2 separate regions of the Homo sapiens genome follow, and region 2 is linked to region 1. Evidence: fine-mapped expression QTL. A gene starts in region 1. The other region holds a variant in brackets. All regions are shown on one strand. Distances are from middle to middle.

Region 1 (2,773 bases):
AGAGCTACAAGTAACAGCCCGTCCTGGCCACTCAGGACTCCTATTAAAACAGCACCCTGGCCATCTAAAGAGTTCACACAGGAGAGATGTCAGGGAAAATCTGAGGAAACTTTGACACCCATAATTTAAATAACAATACATCTTTCCAATGACCCATTGCAGCACACCTGAAAATTTCCCTGAAACTTCCCTGAAAACAGGGAAGACTTGGTATTTCTTAAATTCTGCAGTTCTCAAAAGGATAAAGGTCACTTCTCAGATACCCTGGTCACTCCATGCCCCATCCTATAACCATCCCCCTTTATATACAGGCAGGGGACAAAATAAAGGTCGGCAAACGCTCTGCCTTAGTTGAAAAGCAGGCTGTTGATAGCCCTGGGAGAGAAATGAAAGAAAAAGTAGCTGATGGCCCCATGTTTCTAAAACTCCAAGTTCTATCTAAACTTTGGAGTCGTCAAAAAGTATTTGAACCCTTTCCCAGAAGTGAGCAATACCCAGGGCAGATGAAACTGGTGAGTCCGCCCATTCTTTCTTCAACGTCTGTTAATAAGAGCTGGGACGGTGGCAGGGGACATCCCCCACAACATAGAAGGCTGGAACTGAATTCTCAGATCCCCTGATAGGTCACCCATCCTCCTCCGTGAACAGCGACACACTGGTTCGGTCGGTCCAAAAAGAGAGAACAGGCCTAAAGCCCCAAATCTGCAAGTCGGCGGCCGAATAGCTGTCCCAGTAGTGTGAAGCTAAGTACCCTACTAGAAAGCAGTCTCTGTCCAGCGGCGGATTGCCCCACCACACCGCTGAGCCCCCGGCCCGTATCTGGTCAATTTCCTCTTTTCATTTTCCGCTCACTCCTCCCCCACCAAGTAGGTTCTGATTTATTTCTCCATTCCGCAGAGCGTCCCCAGCTCCAGTCCTCAGTGGCATCCCTAAATCCTGCCAGGGGCTGGTACTGTGAAGTTTCTCCCTTTTCCCTCTGGCTGTGCGAAGCCCCCAACTCCCCAGGAGCGCCGCCGGCCCTCAGCCCGCGGCGGCGGTCCCCACCCCCGCACTCACCCCCTGAGGGTCCTTGACGAAGTAGCTTCCGCTGGAGCCCTGGTAGATGCGCTCGGGAAAGATGCAGCGCTCGATGGCCAGCTCGGCCTGCCGCACCACCGCCTCGAACTCAGGATCCTCCGGGAACTCGTTCCGCTCGCGGTGGGCCTGAGCGGCGTGGGCTGCCGCCGCGGCCTGAGCGGCCAGAGCCTGGGCCTGCGCCGCCACGGTTTGGGTCTGGCCCTGGGCCGCCGCGCCCCGGGCCCGATCCAACAGTGGCTGCCGCTCGCGGTCGTGGCCCGGCGAGCCCGGCGGAGAGGGGCCCGAGCCGGCCGCCGCCGCCACTCGGACCGCGCCCCCGGGCACCTGCGGAAAGTGAGCGCCCGAGCCCGACGGGAAGGTGTAGTCCGGGGGTTGGGCCCGCTCGGGGGACACTAGTGGGCTCGTCTCGTCCATCCCTCAGACAGCCGGCTCCGGGACCCGGCGCGCTCCACACCACTGCGCTCGCGGCCGCGACCAATCCGTGACATCCCCCAGGCCCCGGCCGGCCAACCAGGTCGCGACGCCTCCTTGGCCCCGCCTCTAACCTGCCCTGTTTACTTGGCTACGAATAGGCACGGCCCCTCGCGCGCGAACAGTAGCCAATCAGAACCTGCTCCTACGCAATCGCTGCCTCCGCATTTTTCTCCCCGTCACCTTCTGTGAAGACTGCGCATGCTCCAGGACCCAACCTTGGGTCAGGCACGCCCCCTGCCCCTACTATACCAGCGCCACGCTTAGCTTCCAATTGGCTTACTGGACTTGGGCGCTTTCAAAACAGCAACTATCCTGTCAGTCACTCATTGAGTGCCTACTCTGAACCGGCTGTGAGATTGGAGGAATCTCATCTATGTATCCTCATTCATTCAGTCAGGCACTCATTCATTTATTGAGCACGTACTATGTTCTAAGTGCTAGGGAGACAGCAGTGAAGCAAAGAAACAAAGCTGCTGCTCTACCTCGATGAAACGTTTTTTTTGGGGCGGGGGGTTTGTTTTTTGGGTTTGTTTTTTTTTTTTTTTTGAGACAGAGTGATCAGTCTCCAAAAAAAAAACGACAGAGGTCAAGTGATCTGCCCACCTCGACCTCCCAAAGTGCTGGGATTACAGGTGTGAGCCACTGCGCTTGGCCTGGAAGTAGGTTTTTAAAGGAAAAGAGGCAGTTCCTAACTTGTTTACCAAGAATTTACATTAAAATAACAAGTTATAGATTGGCTATACATTGTACTTTGTATCCCAAATTCGTATCTCAGTTGACCTAACATACTTCCAATGTAGATGTAACAATGTCAGGTTACACTTCAAGTTCGCAGGAACTTGAAGGTAATGGGTGAAGTAGCCAGTCAGGATAAAATGTCTTAACAATTGCCTCCAGGTTTTCCTAGGAAGCCCTGAAGATTTCTTTTTAAAATATTATTATTATTTTTTTAGAGTTAGGTTATCTCTATGTTGCCTGGGCTGGTCTTGAACTCCTGGCCTCAGGCGATCCTCCTCCCTCAGTCTCCCAGAGTGCTGGGGGATTACAGGTGTGAACCACCCACAGTGCAGCCAAAAAATAAAAAATTTTTAAAAGAAAAAAACCCGCCAGGCACAGTGGCTCACGCCTGTAATCCCAGCACTTTGGGAGGCTGAGGCAGGCGGATCACCTGAGGTCGGGAGTTCAAGACCAGCCTGACCAACATGAAGAAACCCTGTCTCTA
Region 2 (2,773 bases), 110 kb after region 1:
GATCCGCCCGCCTCGGCCTCCCAAAGTGCTGGGATTACAGGCGTGAGCCACCGCACTAGCCTCGCCTGGCTAATTTTTTTGTATTTTTAGTAAAGACGGGGTTTCTCCATGTTGGTCAGGCTGGTCTTGAACTCCTGACCTCGGGAGATCCGCCTGCCTCGGCCTCCCAAAGTGCTGGGATTACAGGCATGAGCCACTGCGCCCAGCTCAACAGAGCTTTCGAGGAGAAAAAGAGCTCGCCTTAACTGTGGAACATATACAGGAAGAGACTCAGGAAAGGCTTTGGGAGGAAGATGGCATGAAACAGCAAACAAGTGAACTTACAAATCTCCCTGCAGACAACTCCAACTGCTTGGTTTGCTCCAGGGCCAAGAGATGGCAGACTGAGAGCGCCTTGACCCAAGGTGCTCCCTCCACTGGCTGCTCTCCCGGCCCAGTCAGCCCCCCACTATCTACTCCTTGACTCTCTCACCTTTCTAACCCTCAGTGTCCCACCTGGCTGTCCCTGCCCACCTCCAACTGCCTGCCAGGATGGCCAACTACCCAGCCCCCAGGATCACAATGCCTTGTTGCTGAGTCTTCCTGCTGGTCTTGGCCCCCAGGTCTGTGGTCCCACTCCTCATCACACCACAGGCCAGTTTTTCTATTCTGGGACCCATTTGGAGACTACCTCCTGGTGGTAAATTCTTAGCAAAATCCCATTACACCATGGCCTGTCACATTCCTCATGCTCCGCCCTCACCTGGGGACCTGGAAACCACAGGGGAGACTGTTGTGGGCCTAGGAACTGTTTATCACAGTTTCCAAGGGCACGAGACAGTTTCTCGGAGCACCAGGATGCTGGTGCTCAGAAAGGGCCAGAGGGTCAGGAATGGACCCGATACCTAGAATCGCCCCTGGGGGACTAACCAAAGGCTGAAGCTCAGGGACTGGCTCCATGACCCAGTGATCCCAAGCACAGTCAGGAGTCTCTGGTCCAACCACTTTTCTTATTTTTTACATTTAAAAGATGACATATGTCGGCCGGGCTTGGTGACTCACGCTTGGAATTCCAGCACTTTGAGAGGCTGAGGCAGGCAGATCACTTGAGGTCAGGAGTTTGAGACCTGCCTGGCCAACATGGTGAAACCTCGTCTCTACATAAAGTACAAAAATTAGCTGGGCGGAAACCTCACCTCTACGAAAATACAAAAATTAGCCAGGCGTGGTGGTGCACGCCTGTAATCCCAGCTGCTCAGGAGGCTGAGGCAGGAGGATCACTTGAGCCCAAGAGGTGGAGGTTGCAGCAAGCCGAGATTGTGCCACTGCACTCCAGACTGGGTGACGGCAAGACTCCATCTCAAAAAAAAAAAAAAAGATGGCATATGTTAAATTTAAAAAAAATAGGCTGGGCGCAGTGGCTCATGCCTGTAATCCCAGCACTTTGGGAGGCCAAGGAGGGCGGATCACGAGGTCAGGAGATGGAGACCATCCTGGCTAACAAGGTGAAACCCCGTCTCTACTAAAAGTACAAAAAATTAGTTGGGCGTGGTGGCGGGCACCTGTAGTCCCAGCTACTCCGGAGGCTGAGGCAGGAGAATGGCATGAACCCAGGAGGCAGAGCTTTTAATGAGCCGAGATCGCGCCACTGCACTCCAGCCTGGGCAACAGAGCCAGACTCCGTCTCAAAAAA[G/A]TAAAAAATTTAAAAATTTAAAAAATTTTTAAAATAAAAATTATATAATAAAAACATAAAAAGGAAAAACATAAGTAACCTATATCCTATCACCCCCAAATAACCAGCAATAATATGTTGAGACATTTTCTTTTGTTCCTCTCAATTAGCATTCATATTGCTGAGATCATATGGCATGTACAAGCTTCTACCATTATGATGTCCACGATCCTGTTTTTATTTTAATCTGAAACCAGCTGCTGGACCAGTGGTTCTCAACCCCTGCTGCTTGCCGGATTTACCTGTGCCCCCTCTTCCCTAGGTTCTATCCTTAGAAATCGACTCAGGACATAAAGAAAATATAGAATAAATATAACACTTCAAAAAAATCCTGTTTTTACTTCACACAGAATCATCTAATAAATATTTATTGAGCAAATATGTGCTGAGCACTATAAAGTATGCTTTTGTAAAAATTTTTTTGAGATGGGGTCTCACTCTGTAGCCCAGGCTGGAGTGCAGTGGCGCGACTGTAACTCACTGCAGCCTCAAACTCCTGGGCTCCAGCATTCCCCCTGCCTCAGCCTCCTGAGTCACTGGGATTAAAGGTGTAAGCCACCATGCACAGCTCAGGATGCATTTCTTATAATAAAGAGCTTGCATCATTCTTCATTCATTCATCGATTCATCCATCCATTCATTCATTCATTCATTCATTCAAGAAACATGTATTGAGCTTCTAGTATGCACCAGGCCCCGTGCTGGGGAACACGGACACAAAGTCACTAAGGCTCTCAAGGTCAGAGCTAGTGAGGGAGACAGACATGTCAGGAGATTGTTAGAAACTAATGCACACATGCAAGGGGAGTGATATGCACAGGAATCAGGGGGACACGTGAATGTGGTCTCACCCCCTCTGCGGAAGGTCTTAAAGTTTGCTCCAAGTACCAAAGAACAAGCTGGAGTTAGCCAGGCAAAAGGGCAAGGGGGCTGGGCTCGCCAGACAGAGGAGGCAGTGTGAGCCTACTCTGGGCTCAGGTTTGTGGAGCTGCAAGCAGTGCTGCCAGGTAGATCACACGAGGCAGGAGGTGGTCAGAATGAAGCCAAAGAAGGGCAGATCAG

Evidence for each region. PIP is the estimated chance that this variant, and not a neighbour inherited with it, causes the effect. A credible set is the group of variants that fine-mapping cannot tell apart.
Region 2: its variant is the best candidate, but not a certain one, in a credible set for the expression of PI4K2A in whole blood (TOPMed, PIP 0.89).

The regions. Positions count from the first base shown.
Region 1 is chr10:97,639,461-97,642,233 of GRCh38, reverse strand. PI4K2A (phosphatidylinositol 4-kinase type 2 alpha) reads right to left here and starts at 1,563. Exons shown (of 9, transcript NM_018425.4): 1 at 1,057-1,563. The coding sequence starts at 1,491. RefSeq lists silencers at 1,244-1,473, 2,638-2,773.
Region 2 is chr10:97,529,799-97,532,571 of GRCh38, reverse strand. The region is part of intron 1 of UBTD1 (ubiquitin domain containing 1); the gene reads right to left. Among named protein-coding and RNA genes, the nearest start is that of UBTD1, 32 kb to the right of the region's middle. The variant G/A (reference allele first, on the strand shown) is at 1,673.